2 separate regions of the Homo sapiens genome follow, and region 2 is linked to region 1. The links come from fine-mapping of genetic effects on gene expression. A gene starts in region 1. The other region holds a variant in brackets. All regions are shown on one strand. Distances are between the middles of the regions.

Region 1 (8,333 bases):
AAAAAAAAAAAGAAAGAAAAAGAAAGCATCTTTCAAAACCTCTATTGCGTGTTAGAACGATACAAATATTTTTTCCTACAGAGTAAACTCTGTGTTGTTCTCGTCTTCTGGAACTTTGTACATGGTGGATGTTCAGTAATATTTTGTTAATTGAATGAAATCAGTGAATTCTTCAGTCAGTGATTTGGAAATGGATACAAAGGGAAGTCAACTCCACAAAACAAAAAACCTGAAGCCACTGGAGCACCACTTTCTCCCAAAGGAATGCAAAGTGGACAACACTCGAATTTGACATTTGAACCACAACTTCATCAGCTTGACTTCAAGTTGCAGACTGTTCTGATCTGCACAGTTTCTCTCCCAAGAGTGGATGGAGGGAGCCAGAAGCCCAGAGGGAAGTCTCCCAGGGCACATTTGCCCAAAGCAATGACTCCTTGGTATCTAAGCCTGAATTCACATCAAAAATGTCGCCTGGCCAACATGGCTAAACCCTGTCTCTACTAAAAATACAAAAATTAGGCCGGGCGCAGTGGCTCACACTTCTAATCCCAGCACTTTGGGAGGCCGAGGCAGGTGGATCACTTGAGGCCAGTTCGACCCTGGTCAACTTGGCAAAATCCCATCTCTACTAAAAATACAAAAATTAGCCAGGTATGGTAGTGTACGCCTGTAATCTCAGCTACTCGGGAAATTGAGGCAGGAGAATCACTTGAACCCGGGAGGCAGAGGTTGCAGTAAGCTGAGATTGCACCACTGCACACCAGCCTGAGTGAGAGTGAGGCCCTGTCTCAAAAAAAAAAAAAAAAAAAAAAAACCAGTTAACTAATAGATGAGATTTAGAGTTTGGTGAATTCTAATTGATTTCTAAAAAATAAAGGAAGAGATGTGTAGTGTGGCCAAAAGACCTCCAATCCGGGGTTCCTGAGATCCCGGCCACAGGCCAAGTCATCTCATCTTCCTCGGTCTCAGGGTCCTCTTCTGTATGAGGAGGTGATAGACTAGCTGACTGTTGAGTCTCTTTCAGTCTAAAACTCAATGATTCCATGAACATTTTAACAGGAGCAATGAAAGTGACTACAATAGCAACTTTAGGTTACACCAGGCTCTGTGCTTAAACTCCTGATGTTTCCATAATGATCCTGGGTGAGCTCCCTAAACTGGCTCCAGTGAGGTTCCTGCAAATCTGCAATCACCCCGTCCCTCTGGGTACATGCTCTTCTAGGTCCGGTCTTCAGCACTAACAAGATCTTTGCAGGAATGCTGGTTTTTCTTTCTGGATTTCAATGCCTGGAATGAATGTAGGTTGGGGGCCTGGCTTGAGAATCATGCTACCTGCCTGATGACATGTGATACTGAAAATGGCCAAACGCTGAACTTCCCACAAGATCACCTCAGTGTCCAGCATCTAGTCCTGTCAGCTACCCCAACAACCAGGCATGCACACCAGTTCCAAGGGTACAGCACTGTAATACCCAAAGGCTAGTAAAAACCAAAGTGCCCCAAAATAGAGAAAAACTTCAATACCTCATGATGTGTGCAGGGGAGCAGCACACAGCAGTTAAAAGGAGGTAGATGTAGATGTCCCGATATTAATGGATGTTTCTTGAATAATGTTAAATAACAAAGCAAACTACAGAAATGTGTATTGTGATCCCATTTTGTCTGCTATTATAGGCATATGTAAATATGTGTTCATGTGTAAACTTATATGACTGTAAAAGAGTATCCGGAAAAATAAGCAGTAAATTATTTGCAGTGGATACCCCATGGGATATATATGGGGTGGGTTTCACTCTTCCCTTGAATTCTTTTGAATGGTTTAAATTTTTGTCAATGAGTGCAACATAGTATTTCTTTAAAACCTGGTATTCACAACTATCTAGTATAAAAGTACACATATTGGCCAGGCACAGTGGCTCATACCTGTAATCCCAGCATTTTGGGAGGCCAAGGTGGGCAGATCGCTTGAGCCCAGGAATTTGAGACCAGCCTGGGCAACATAACAAAACCCCATCTCTACAAAAACACAAAAATTATCCGGCATGGTGGCACATGCCTGTAGTCCCAGCTACAGGGGAGGCTGAGGTGGGAGCACCAATTCAGCCTGGGAGGTTGAGGCTGCAGTGAGCCATTATCACACCACTGCACTCCAGCCTGGGCAACAGAGTGCGACTCTATCTCAAAATAAATAAATAAATAAAACGCATACCTTACGTAGCCAAAATTAACATGCTTCATCCAGGCCCCACCATCAAAATCTCACTATCCAAGGTCCCACTGTCTAAGGTTACTTAGACAGTGGGACACCTCAAAACACATCTTACATTTCTCAGTCTCTCTAGGGGTGTGAAAGGTACTGACACATTTTTTAAACAATATCAGACATGACAAGCCCTTTTTTTTCTTTTTTTGAGACAGAGTCTTACTCGGTCGCCAGGCTGGAGTAGAGTGGCACGATCTGGGCTCACTGCAACCTCCGCCTCCCGGGTTCAAGCAATTCTCCTGCCTCAGCCTCCCAAGTAGCTGGGATTACAGGCGCCTGCCACCATGCCTGGCTAATTTTTGTGTTTTTAGTAGAGACAGGGTTTCACCATGTTGGCCAGGCTGGTCTCAAACACCTGGACTTTGAGTGATCTACCCGTCTCAGCCTCCCAAAGTGCTGGGATTACAGGTGTGAGCCACCACACCCAGTCGACAAGCCCTCTTTTTAAAATATATCCCTGGTCCTCAAAGGCAGTTAAAGCTGTGAGCCACCTATACTAGCTGTAAATTAAAGCTTAAGATTTCACCTGGGTATGTTTCTAAAATAAGAATCCTTAGGAATGTATTATTAAGAGGGGCCAGAGGCAACAGTAATGGAGTCATCACCTTCCTTAACATGTCTGCTTAATATTCAAAAATAAATGTGATCATACCACTCCTTTACATGAATTACCTCCACCAGTCCATACTGTGGGACCAAAGCCAGACAGCCTGCCAGTAAGAAAAGGAATCTAGATTGCAGGATGCGGGGCGGAGAAGAGTTTTTAAGAATGGAGAAATGCATTCCAAACCCAAGTAGCAGGGTTGTATTTGTTCAGGTCAGCTCTGAGCATCATGCGTCTTTTTTTTTTTTTTTTAAGACAAAGTCACGCTCTTGTCGCGCAGGCTGGAGTGCAATGATGCGATCTCGGCTCACTGCAACCTCTGCCTCCTGGGTTCAAGCAATTCTCCTTCCTCAGCCTCCCGAGTAGCTGGGATTACAGGCGCCTGCCACCACACCCAGCTAATTTTTGGTAGAGACGGGGTTTCACCATGTTGATCAGGTTGGTCTTGAACTCCTGACCTCAGGCAATCCACCTGTTTCGGCCTCCCAAAGTGCTGGGATGACAGGCTAGAGCCTACGCGCCCAGCCCATCATGTGTCATTTTTATAGTGTGCATAAGTGCGGGGAATGTTAGTAAAGTGTATGGACAATCTGAAAACCCAGTTACACTTCAGTTAAAAGTGTGGATCAGTTAGCTAGAAAATACCTGCGCACGGCGGCTCATGCCTGTAATCCCAGCACTTTGGGAGGCCAAGGCATCACCGGAGGTCGGGAGTTCGAGACCAGCCTGACCAACATGGAGAAACCCCGTTTCTACTAAAAAAAATTACAAAATTAGCTGGGCATGGTGGCACATGCCTGTAATCCCAGCTACTCGGGAGACTGAGGCAGGAGAATCGCTTGAACCTGGGAGGCAGAGGTTGCGGTGAGCCAAGATCGCACCATTGCACTCCAGCCTGGGCAACAAGAGCAAAATTCCATCTCAAAAAAAAAAAAAAAAAGAAAAGAAAAAGAAAATACCTGTGCACACCAACACAAACGAAAGGATGTTGTGTGACTTACAAAAAACCTCACAAGAAGGGGTCCTTTGAGTCTCCACTCCACTTGACCCCTTGCTACTCACAATGTGATGAGTAGACAAACAGTATCTGATGGGCAGCACCCACCACAGGAGAACTTCTTAGAAATGCAGAATCTCAGGACCTGTCCCAGAGCTATGGAAGGAGGGCACACATCTTACCAAGATCCCCAAATGATTCCTGTGCCCAGTGACGTTCGAGATGCACTCCATAGCGCATTCAGAACCATTCTACAAACCACTTTTGAGCTTTCCACTAATTGGGCAGAGGCTGCACACACCATCATTGCAAATCGATAGGGGTTTTGAAGCCCTGGGTGTTTCCTGTTTCTGGCACAGCATGGCAACTGTCCCAGCAAGGGGCAGCCCACGGGAGCTCCTTTGCACACAAGCCCTGCTGCTCCTAAAGGCTCTGGACACACAGGAGACCTCCCAGCCTGCTTGCGGGGGGGGCGGGGGGGACACTCGCTCCTAACAGGTCTTGTTTCAGGTCAGAGATAACTGGATTAGAAACCTGACTTGGGTCCCTAATTGCAGAAAGAGTGAAGGAGGACAAAGAAGAAATGGGGAAGGAAGGCACCTGAGCTAGCACTTTCCTGTCTGAGGCTAGGGCGGGTATGACGGGCAGGCCAGGTGCCCACACTTGGCCGGCTGAGAGGGGTACGAGGCAGGCTGCTCAGGGCAGAGAAGAGGAATGCAAGATGGAATCAGGTGTACACCTGTGAGACGGACCCCCAGGTGGGCCCCTCCAAGGTCAAGGGAGGAGATGAGGACTTGAGTGAGGCTGAGCCAGCTTCTGGAGAGAGGGGCTACCAGACAGAGAGCGAGAGAGGCGCTCAGACATCAGACGGACAGACAGAGGCTGACGGCAGGAGGCTCAGAGGGCCCAACGTCAGCCCGCCGGGCAGGCTCCCCAGGCAGACAGACAGGACGGGGCCCACCGCCCAAGGCCCGACTCACAGGTGCGCGATGCCCGCCTTGCGCACCGCCGAAGAGATGGCTTTGACTGCTGTGCAGAGCGAGTTGAGCAGCTGGGTCAACTCGCCCGTGCCGCGGGCCTTCCTGCCCTCCTCCATGACGAAGCGGGTCAGGGTGTTGACGTCCGTGTCGAAGGGCGCCTGGTCAGCCATGCTTGAACCGGGTAGAGCGCGGGGCTGCAGGTGCAAGCGGCAGGTGCGGGGCTGCAGGTGCGGGCGGCAAGAGAGGGCAGTAGGCACTGGCCGCAGGTGCGGAGCTGCAGGTGCGGGCGGCAGGTGCGGGCCGCGGGACCTGGCGGGAGGACTGACAGACCGACTGCCGCCCCGAGTGTCCGCAGCGCTCGTGGTGCAACTGGGCCAGGCCAGGCGCCGGCGGGTGAATCGCGGAAACCTTTAGACGCGGGTCGGCCCCCCGCCCCCGGGAACACTCTTGCGCCCCGCCTACCCCGCGGACCAGACCGCGGCTCCGCCTGCTTGGATCTTCAGACAAGGTCGGGGATCCTCCCTGCGGTCTCCCAACCCCCGCCCCCACGCGCCCTGCCGCCCCCTAGTCTTCCTGGGCTGTCGCCCCCCACACACACCCCTCCGTGCCCTCCACCCGCACTGTGGAGCGGGACTCGGGCCATCGGACTCTGCCAGAGAGAAAGCTATGACTGTTTCCTCCAAAATCATAAAACGGAAGTTCAGAAAGGTTAAGTAACTTGCTCAATGCCACCAGCTAGGCAGCGAAACCCGCAGCCAGTCCACATGGCCTGGCTTTAGCTCTGCAGCTCCTGCCCCGTGTGGCTGCCTGCCCCCGCCCCCTGCCCAAGCCCCGTCCACTCTGCCTGGCCTGTCACCTGGCCCTTCTGTCCCCGCTAGGAGACACAGAGTCCCCGTTTCTCACCCATCTGAGGGCCCACGTCTGAATCCTTAATCCAGGCCTCTTCTCAAGATTCCTAGAATTCGAGAGCTATTGAGTATTTGAATTTCCAAGATGTGAGTCTCGCCCGGAAGTTTCCCGGAAAACGGTCGCTGACACAGAGTCCTCGGCTACCACACAAAGGCCAGAGGGCTCCACCGCCCGCATCCTGACCCCCTGGTAGCCACAATGCTGCAATTGATGTGCTGATTCACGAAACAACACCTATTGAGCACCTGCTGTGCTGAACACTGTCCTACCTTCCAGGGGTGGAGCCTGATCCAAACAGACAAAACTCCTGCCCTTTTCGAGTGTACGTTTTCACAGAGAAACAGTAAAAATAAATATATAAACAATAGATTAGTTTGTTACATAAGCCATAAGTACCATAGAGAGAAACGAAATAGAAAAGGAAGACACGGAATGTGGAGGGGAGAAGAGGGTGAGCAGAGGCCTCAGTAAAAGCTTCTCTGAGAAAGGGATATGTGAGCAAAGAGGTGAAGGATGCAACGCGCCGGTGGAGATGGGAAGGAGAGCGGTTTCCTCACCGGGAGAGCCAGTGCACAGGCCCTGGGGTAGGAGACCATGTTTCAGGTTCAGGGAATGGCCAGGAGACCGGTGGAGCTGAAATAGAGCTAGCAAGGGTCAGAGGTGGAGGAGATAAGGCCAGCGGGAGGATGCAGAGGTGAGGTCTAGAGGGCCAAGTGAGGTTTGACTTTGACTAGGAGGAACCCACTGGAGAGTTTGGAGAAGAAGAGAGGCATGGTCTACCCTGTGTCTTCATACTGCGGCTACTGTGTGAAGATCAGACTGAAGACAGTGCCCTCCAGGTTACTAGGAGATAGTGAGCCAGGTGTTAGCAGTGGAGGTGGTGGATTCTGGACATATTTTGAAGGTAGAGCTGATGGGATTCGTTGACAGATGAGATATGTGAGAGACAGGAGTCTCGGATGATTCTAAGGTTTGAGGCCTGAGAAACTAGAAGAATGCAGTTGTCCTCGACTGCGATGGGGAACACCGAGAGGGGCGTGTGCTGGAGGCAGGACTGACAATTAGGAGCTAAGTGTGGGACCTGCTAAGTTTGAAATGCCTTCTAGACATCCAAGGCAATGTCAAATAGACAGATTTATGTATCTGGAGTTCAGAGGAGAGATCCATGCTGCAGGTATAAATTGGAAAAGCCAACTGGAAAAACCAACCAAAAACCAAGAGATGTGACATCCGGGAAGCCAGATGAAGAAGGTAAGTAAAGGCGGGCTGACCCATGTGCCAAGCGGTGTGGATGGGGCAGGCAGGACAAGCTCTGAAAATTGACTGCTGGATTCACCGTGGAGACCTGGGGTGCAGATTCCTGTGCCCAGGGTTGTCAGATGCGGCGGCGTTGAATGAAGGAAGGTGGTGGTACCACCAGGAAAGACAGCGACTGTCTCCTCAAAGCCCCAGAGGGGACTTAGATGCCTGGCAAAGAGAGTTGATCCTTTAAGGGTCTTATTTAACTCTTTGTTCCTCAGGCAACTTTTCAGGAAAAACCCTGTGTTAAAAAAAATAGTAAGAGAAATACATCCTTAAACATAAAAACTCAAATAGGCCCGGCTCACTGGCTCACACCTGTAATCCCAGCACTTCACTTTGGGAGGCCGAGGCGGGCAGATCACCTGAGGTTGGGAGCTCGAGACCAGCCTGACCAACATGGAGAAACCCCGTCTCTACTAAAAGTACAAAAATTAGCTGGGCATGGTGGTGCATGCCTGTAATTCCAGCTACTCAGGAGGCTGAGGCAGGAGAATCGCTTGAACCTGGGAGGCGGAGATTGCAGTGAGCAGAGATGGCACCATTGCAGTCCAGCCTGGGCATCAAGAACAAAACTCCATCTCAAAAAAAAAAAAAAAAAAGAAAAACAAACAAACTGGAGGCTGAGGCGGGCAGATCTTGAGGTCAGGAGTTCAAGACCAGCCTGGCCAACATGGTGAAACCCATCTCTACTAAAATAAAAAATTAGCCGGGCATGGTGGTGTGCACCTGTAATTCCAGCTACTCAGGAGGCTGAGGCAGGAGAATCGCTTGAACCCGGGAGACAGAAGTTGCAGTGAGTCAAGATCCTGCCGCTGCACTCCAGCCTGGGCAACAGAGCGAGATTCAATCTCAAAAAAAAAAAAAAGAACTGAAATGTGATGACTAGTATTTTTGGCATAGTAACTAGTTACTAGGGGAGAGCTAGAGCTAGTAACTAGGGGAGTGTGCCCCTTTACTTGCCAGACTCTCAGTCCCTCAGGATCTTGGATTGGCTAGGACCGTAAAAGTCATCTAGTCCAGCCAACCCTCATTGGACACCATCCCTGATAAGAGGTGAAGAGCTTGGGATCTGCATTAAGCAAACTTGTTTGAGTCCCAGCTCCAGCCCTCAGCAGCCAGAGATCTCGGACCAGTTACCTAATCTCTGTAAACCCAGTTTGTTCATCCATATAGTGGAATAATGGTTCCATCTGGCAGTGGTGTCATCGGGCTGAAATGAGATGGCATTGGCAGAGTGCTTAGCTCAGAGCTACACACAGGGGACACACTGAATACGTG
Region 2 (8,333 bases), 41 kb before region 1:
AATAACTGGAAAAATTATATGTGTATTTCTTCATAGCATGTTTTCGTTCCTTTCTCAAAACAAGTCAAAGGCCCCTTTATCAAAGCACACATGATAGGAACTTGAAATGCAGCTTCCATCTAGGGCACACAGGGCCAATAAGCTTTGGACCCAGTTTCTTGCCAAAGCACCTGCAGCTCCCACACCCCTGCCTGGGCCTGGGGTGCTCTGTGCCCCATGCCTGCTCCCCAGGACTCACAGGTGGGCCAGACCGGCCTTGCGCACAGCCGAGGAGATGGCTTTGATGGCCGTCAGCATTGAGTTCAGCAGCTGGGTGAGCTCCCCAGTCCCTTTGGCCTGACGCCCCTTTTCCATAACGTAGCGGGTCAGGGTGAGCATGTCGGTTTCGAAGGGGCTTCTGTCCGTCATTTTGGCTGGAATGCTTCAAATCCTTTTCTCCCGGCAGGAAACCTTGCTTACTTCTGAGGGCTGCAGCTCCGCAGTGTGGAAGCCGATAAGAAATCTGTGCTGGCCCTGCCAGGATCTCTAAGGAAAAGGGCCCAAAACACATGACTCAAACAACTGCTGGGGCCCTCAAGGAACTCCCTCTGGCCTCGGGGACTGTGGCAGCTGCCAGGGAGCCGCAGCAGTCTGTAAATAGGACGGGCTGCCCAGAAACATGGAGCTGCTTTCTCCTGCTGAGCACCCCCTTTCAAGATACCAAGAAGCCACCATTTAGGCACAGGTGGGAGGTGAGAAATCCAGTTGATTAAAAAATGATGCATAAAACCCTCTTATTCCAGGCTCCAAAGGATTCTTCACATATAGTGACTGCAGGGCCTGGCTCTCCCGAGGGCGGAGGTGGCAGATTCGCAGGTTCCTTATCTGGGACGTAGGTCACATAGTAACATAATGGCAACCCCAGAATTCCTTTAGCCAGGGTTTGGAATAAGTTAGGAAAGAATGCTTTTTATTTCCAGTAGGCATGTATGACCAGTGGATATCCACAGTAGAGATCCAGATCCGGAAGAAAACTATTATATTCCTAGCACAGTTCCTGGCACCAGTGTTATTTTGTCAATATCTCTGGATGTCCACTTTTGTAACAAAAATTGCTTGTTAAAAAGGAAACACTAAAGAAGTGGATAAAGACAAACCTCCTCACCACCAGCCCATTCTCCCATCCCACTCTCCAGAAATCACTGCTGCTAGGGCTGGTGGCGGTCTGTGCAGCCAGTAGGCACTGGTGGGGTGCATATGGTGGTGGAAGCACTTTCTCTAGGGCCAGCCAGACCTGGCTGTGAGTCCCAAGCTAGCTATCTGTTGGTTGCATGATTTGAGAAAGTTATTAAACCCCTTGGAACCTCAGTTGTCTCACTCTTAAATGAGCATAACCGTGAAGCATCCATCTTATAGAGTGGCTGCAATGAGATGTACCTAGTATAGTAGGTGCTCAGTACTTTGTTACCTATTATTGCCCTTCCAGTTTTTTTTTTTTTTTTTTTTTTTTTTTTTGAGATGGAGTCTCACTCTGTCGCCCAGGCTGGAGTGCAGTGGCGTGATCTCGGCTCACTGCAAGCTCCGCCTTCCAGGTTCACGCTATTCTCCTGCCTCAGCCTCCCGAGTAGCTGGGACTACAGGCGCCTGCCACGACGCTTGGCTAATTTTTTGTATTTTTAGTAGAGACGGGGTTTCACCGTGTTAGCCAGGATGGTCTCGATTTCCTGACCTCGTGATCCGCCCGCCTCGGCCTCCCAAAGTGCTGGGATTACAGGCGTGAGCCATCACGCCCAGCCGCCCTTCCAGTCTTTCAATGTGCTCACAACTATTGTGCAATCATACATAATCTCATTTCACAAAACAGTACAACATGCACATTTCTCTGAAGGTCTTTTCCCCTGACAGTTATGTCGATTAGAATGTGTTCAGCTGCAAGAAATAGAACAACTAGAGCAATTTACACGTGGGGGTTTATTTCCTCATAGACCAGGAGTGCACTAGGAGGTGGTGGCTGGTGTTCATTCAGCTGTTCTTGGTTCCACTGGGACCCCTCTCTGTCTCGTCTCTGTCATCCTTGGTCGGCTGGATTGTGCCCCTTGCTTGGCATCCTGGGGGCACAAAATGTCACTGCAGTTCTGAACATCTGGCCCACGTTGAAGATGCAAAGAGGGGAGCAAGGGCAGCTCCAACCACATCAGTTCCTTTTTATTAAGAAAGAACAGTTTCCCTGGAACCCATCCTCCCACCCCCGTAGACGTCCCTGTGCACAGCGTCTGCCAGATCAGGGTCGTGTGGTGATGCCTGCAGTGGGAGCTGGGCGCTGGCATTGGATCAACCAAACTGGTTGAGGAGGGCAACCAAATGGTTGAGATGGGCATTGGTGCTCACAATTTATGTGGAAACTTTCAGATAAAACTAACATCTACCAGTAGATCTTAATATGCAGGTTTAAGATCCCAAATATATATATATGTTATTTATATATGTTTTTAGTTCCAGAAAGCAAATATTATGGGAAGATGTCCAAGTCAGCACACAGAGGCTTGGATCATTCCAGCTTGCGGACATTCAGATAATTTAGGTAAGTTGGCTCCTCAAATAGTAATGCAACAAACATCCTTATATTGGGGCAAGTGCTTCAGTAAGATACAACCCCAGAAGAGGAACTGCTATGTGACAATGTTCTAATTCTTTTCGCGGGGGTGTGGGGGGGTCTATCTTCACTTACCAAGAAATATGCTACCTCTTAATAGAACAAATACAGGATCCCATACCCTTTTTGTGATTTTCATTCAATCTATTTCAACTTTCAACACTGAGGTGAATGGATAGATGGAGACAGATGACACCTCTATCTCAGTATGTGGCACACATTAATCCACCCAATTATTTGATCCAGTAGTGCTATTTTTACAGATGAGGAAACTAGGGCTTCCTAGGGATAACACAGCTACTAGCTAGAATCTCAGCCCAGAGCTACCTGAGGTTAGCGTTCTTTCTCTTATATGATACTTTCTCCCATTCTAGGATGCTCCTCCTCCCTAGATGACTGAGCACCATACACGACAATGCACATATGCCTGTTAACACAATTAGAACATAGAATAAGACATGAGCTTAGAATTGAGTTCTAACAAGAGAGATCGCTATGTATAATAAAACAAGAACATCTGCCTGGGTCAGACCAGAGTATTGCTAAATCTATACCCAAAGGAAAGAAGCCTGGGCCGGGAATCAAAGCCCTCCGGGACTCAGATGCCTCAATTTAAAAATGAGATCCAGCTGAGCACAGTGGCTCACACCTGTAATCCCAGCACTTTGGGAGGCCAAGGCAGGGGGATCACTTGAGCCCAGGAGTTCAAGACCAGCCTGGCCAACATGGTGAAACCCCATCTCTATAAAAAAAATACAAAAATTAGCCAGTGTAGTGGCGTGCACCTGTAGTCCCAGCTACTCAGGAGGCTGAGGTGGGAGGATCACTTGAACCTGGGAGGCAGAGGTTGCCGTGAGCCAAGATGGCACCACTGCACTGCAGCCTGGGTGACATTGAGAGTCTGTCT[CAA/C]AAAAAAAAAAAAAATGGGATTAGACTTCATGATCCCTAACTGTATTATCTTCACTTAGTTTTAAAAACACACATTTTCGGCCAGGTGCAGTGACTCACACCTGTAATCCCAGCACTTTGGGAGGCCAAGGCAGGCGGATCACGAGGTCAGGAGATCGAGACCATACTGGCTAACGTGGAGAAACTCCATCTCTACTAAAAATACAAAAAACTAGCTGGGCATGGTGGTGTGCACCTGTAGTCCTAGCTCCTTAGGAGGCTGAGGCAGGAGAATTGCTTGAACCTGGGAGGCGAAGGTTGCAGCGAGCCGAGATCGCACCATTGCACTCCAGCCTGGACAACAGAGTGAGACTCCATCTCAAAAAAAAAAAAAAGAAGAAGAAGAAAAGAAAAGACATATTATCACTGCTTCCAAGTGTTTCTGAATCCAAATGAAAAGTGGTTGCCTTCATCATTCAGAACAATACTGTCACATTGAGAAATATGCTGGGGAAAAAAAGTTATTAGCAAGAGAGCCTTCTGCAATGGCTTCACTTCTGTCAGTTGCTAAGGGTAAGGTAAAGACTTGGGTATCATTTCTAGCTCATGTTTCTTCTGGAAGGTGCTCCACTGCCAACATAATAATCAATCCAACTTCCCTATTGGAAGCTGGAGAAAGGGCCATTCCAGTGTGTTTTACTCTGTGTGTTCCTGTTTAATGAAAGACTCATCTAAATAGAGATGCCACTTTGTATTAATCTGTTCACCCCATCTGACACTCAGTATCAGTTTAATAATAATAATAAGCTAATAACAGGAGTTATCATTTTTTGGGTAAGAACATTTTAATTTTGATATCATGAGGATCAAACTTGGAAAACTCTTCCTTTCCCAAGAGCTCTGGGAATTGTGAAAACTGCGGAATGGACCTTTCCTTGATCCTAACACGTCATGTTGCCATTAACAAATAAGCTTTGCCTTTCACATGGGGAAACCAATGATGATTCCTTTGACATCACTACAGAAATAGAGTGGCTGGATCTTCCAAGTTCTGGTCCAGTAAATGACTGCAGGGTGAAGACGGAGGCCTGGTTGATTAGTTTTCAGGTTTCATTTTGAAGCTAATGTTATCTGATTAAGAAGGTCTCCGGCTGGGCACGGTGGCTCACACCTGTAATCCCAGCACTTTGGGAGGCCGAAGCAGGCAGATCACGAGGTCAGGAGATCAAGACCATCCTGGCTAACACGCATCTCTACTAAAAACACAGAAAAAAATTAGCCGGGCATGGTGGCGGGCACCTGTAGTCCCAGCTACTCGGGAGGCTGAGGCAGGAGAATGGCGTGAACCCAGGAGGCAGAGCTCGCAGTGAGCTGAGATTGTGCCACTGCACTCCAGCCTGGGCGACAGAGCAAGACTCTGTCTCAAAACAAAAAAAAAGAAGGTTTCCCCTGTGATGGCGCAAAACAATGCTGAAAATGTGTATTCACACAAAAACCCACACACAGATGTTTATAGCAGTTCTAGTTAAACTAGAAACTGCAAACACCCAAAATCTCCTTAACAGTGAATGGGTAAACACACTGGGAGAGCCATACAACGGAATACTATTTTTTTTGAGGCGGAGTCTCGCTCTGTTGCCCAGGCTGGGGTGCAGTGGCATGACCTCGGCCTCCCGGGTTCACGCCATTCTCCTGCCTCAGCCTCCTGAGTAGCTGGGACAACAGGCACCTGCCACCACGCCCGGCTAATTTTGTTTTTGTATTTTTAGTAGAGACGGGGTTTCACCGTATTAGCCAGGATGGTCTCAATCTCCTGACCTCGTGATCCGCCCGCCTCGGCCTCCCAAAGTGCTGGGATTAAAGGCATGAGCCACTGCGCCCGGCCACAATGGAATACTATTAACAACACAAACACTAGTGTCACGTGTGGCACTTAGGCGAGTCTCAGAGGCATTGTGCTGAGTGACAGCAGTGGTCTCCAGCGAGTATCTACAGTCTCATTCCATTTGTAGGGGACTCTCCAGAATGCAAACCTGTGGGGACAGATAACTCTCATGGCTGCCAGGGGTAGGGGTGTGGGGAGGGGACAGGGCAATGGGGGTTTGCATGATAGAACAGTTCTAGACCCCAATTATAGTCATAATCCCAATTTCAAATTTTGCAAACTGAAATTCTGTACCCATTAAACAAGAACTCCCCATTCCCCCTCCCAACACCTAGTCCCTGGCACCCGCCATTCTGCTGTCTCTATGAATTTGGCTACACTGGGTCCCTCATAGACCATACAGTATCTGTCCTGCTGCGACTGGCTTATTTCACTCAGCACAATGTCCTCACCATCCCCGCATGCTGTGGCATGGGTCAGAGTTCCCTCCTCTCTGAGGCTCAACAGCATTCCCTGGTATGGACACGCCACAGTCTGTTCACCCATTCATCCTCTATGGCCGCTTGGGTTGCCTCCACCTCTGGGCTAGTGTGAGTAATGCTGCCATGAGCACAGCGTGCAAACATCTGTTCAAGGCCCTGCTTTTGATTCTCTCGGGGATGTGCCCAGAGGTGGACCTGCAGGATCATATGGTAATTGTCTGTCTAATTTCTGGAGGAACTGCTGCACCATTTTCCACAGCGGCTGCACCATTTCACACTCCCCAGCAGTGAGCAAGAGTCCCAGGGTCTCCACCTTATTGCCAGCACTTGTTATTTTCTGTTTGTTTGTTTTTACAGTAACCATCCCAATGGGTGTGAGGTGGTATCTCACTGTGGCTTAGAGTAGTTGCATCTTCCTAATGATTAGTGATGTTGAGCAGGTGCTTATTAGCCACTCCTGTAATTATTTTTATTATGCTTTTTGTTTGTTTTGTTTTTTGAGACAGAGTCTCGCTGTGTTGCCCAGACTGGAGTGCCGTGGCACGATCTCGGCTCACTGCAACCTCCATCTTCCAGGTTCAAGTGATTCTCCCATCTCAGCTCACGAGTAGCTGGGACTACAGGCACGCACCACCATGCCTGGCTACCTTTTGTATTTTTAGTAGAGATGGGGTTTCATGATATTGGGCAGGCTGGTCTCAAACTCCTGACCTCAGGTGATAAGCCTGTCTTGGCCTCCCAAAGTGCTGGGATTATAGGCGTGAGCCACTGCGCTCGGCTTATTATGTTTTATTAACATATCTGTTCACAACAGATTGGAAGTGAAACAAACAAGCCAGTGTTATGAGCAGATCTCTGGAGAGGCGCCGGTTGTCCGGCACTGTGGGTGTCAAGGATGAGCAGAAGCCTGGATAATTTGGGGATCAGGAGGGAGGGGGATTGGCCAGTGCCATGTATAAGTCAGCTCCCCCCGTAAAGGGATCCAAGGGAGGGCCTGCTATTTCTGCCACCCTCCAGCCCAGGCTGGCACCTGTGCAGCTGTCATGCCCCTTTCAGCTACATTTAAATGTTGGAAGTTCGAGTTACCTACATGATCTGAAATTGCAGCTGGTGACCTTTCAGCAAATGCCAAAGTTCTTTCAGGGCACACAACAGCGTGGACACACGGGGCATCTGGAAGGCCCAGAGGAAGGGGGGGGCAGCGTCCAGCTCACGCTTTTTTCAGCGCCACTGATGCATTGGTGATCACAGAGCTATTTATGGGCTTGCTGTGCTTGGTGAAAGGCCCTCACAGGCCTGGGCGGAAGTAGTAAGGACAAACAGAGTCTCTGAACAGTAAGGCAGTCTTAGGGCAGTTCATAGGGCGGGGCCCCCACCTGAAGTCTAGGATCTGGACTGTGACTCTACAGTACTAGCTGAGAGCATATTCTCTGTTAGCAAAACTCTGTTAGAATGCCTTCCATGCCCCGTCTCCAGTGATCTCAACAAACGCTCTTTCATGAAACCTCAGCATTTCTGCTTCCAGCACGGCAGACCCTTTAGGGTATCTGCTCAGCCCACGATCCCCATCTAAGAGAGAGGCGTGCCCTGCCCATAAAAAGAAAACCCAAGGCCACGTTTGTCTTATATGACCCGGGTCTATGGCTGCAGCTAACTGGACACAAGCTAAGACGTCAGGTTTTTTTCTCCGGGGAACTTGGTGTGAGACATGGAGACACAGTGGATTGGCTGACAATGCCAGGACGGACTAAGGGTGTGTCCTCGGGGTTAGGAAAGCAGTGGGTGCTAGGTTTCATGAGAGTCCCCTGAAGCTTTCCAACAAATTGCCTTTCTGCTTTAGCAGAATAAATGGGTTTCTGTTACCTACGATGAAAATGGCCTTGACTACAATAGATATTACAATTAACATTTTGCAAATGAAGAAAGGGAGACTCAGAGAGGTTAAAAATATTGCCAAGCTTGGTCTAGTTTAGTCAGGATAGCGTATGTTATCGTGCAGCAACAAATAAACCTGAAATCCCCACGGCTTAGCACAGCAAAGGTTTGTCTCTCCTTCTGGTCCCAGGCTGACATCGACATGGCGGTGGCTTAGGCCTCCAGGCTCCTGCCATGTCATGAACCTGTACAAAAATGCATGGCTTCAGAGGAGGACCCATCCTAATGTAGGTAATCTAGGCTCATCTCATCTTAATCCTTACTTTAATTAGATCTGCAAAGACCCTCATTCTTTTTTCTTTTTTTTTTTTTTTTTTTGAGACGAGTCTCGCTCTGTCGCCCAGGCTGCAGTGCAGTGGTGTGATCTCGGCTCACTGCAAGCTCTGCCTCCCGGGTTCATGCCATTCTCCTGCCTCAGCCTCCTGAGTAGCTGGGACTACAGGCGCCCGCCACCACGCCCAACTATTTTTTGTATTTTTAGTAGAGACGGGGTTTCACTGTGTTAGCCAGG

Which allele goes with the higher level. Alleles are on the strand shown, and positions count from the first base shown. SD is a standard deviation of normalised expression in the study named.
With allele C in place of CAA in region 2, the expression in naive CD8 T cells of the gene that starts at base 5,222 in region 1 is lower (large effect, 0.84 SD a copy in Schmiedel 2018).

What was found. PIP is the estimated chance that this variant, and not a neighbour inherited with it, causes the effect.
Region 2: its variant is fine-mapped to the expression of FBP1 in naive CD8 T cells (Schmiedel 2018, PIP 0.95).

Annotation. Positions count from the first base shown.
Region 1 is chr9:94,634,297-94,642,629 of GRCh38, forward strand. FBP1 (fructose-bisphosphatase 1) reads right to left here and starts at 5,222. Exons shown (of 7, transcript NM_000507.4): 1 at 4,845-5,222. The coding sequence starts at 5,014. RefSeq lists a silencer at 5,296-5,355.
Region 2 is chr9:94,593,319-94,601,651 of GRCh38, forward strand. It overlaps FBP2 (fructose-bisphosphatase 2), which reads right to left and starts at 506. Exons shown (of 7, transcript NM_003837.4): 1 at 239-506. The coding sequence starts at 408. The variant CAA/C (reference allele first, on the strand shown) is at 3,540.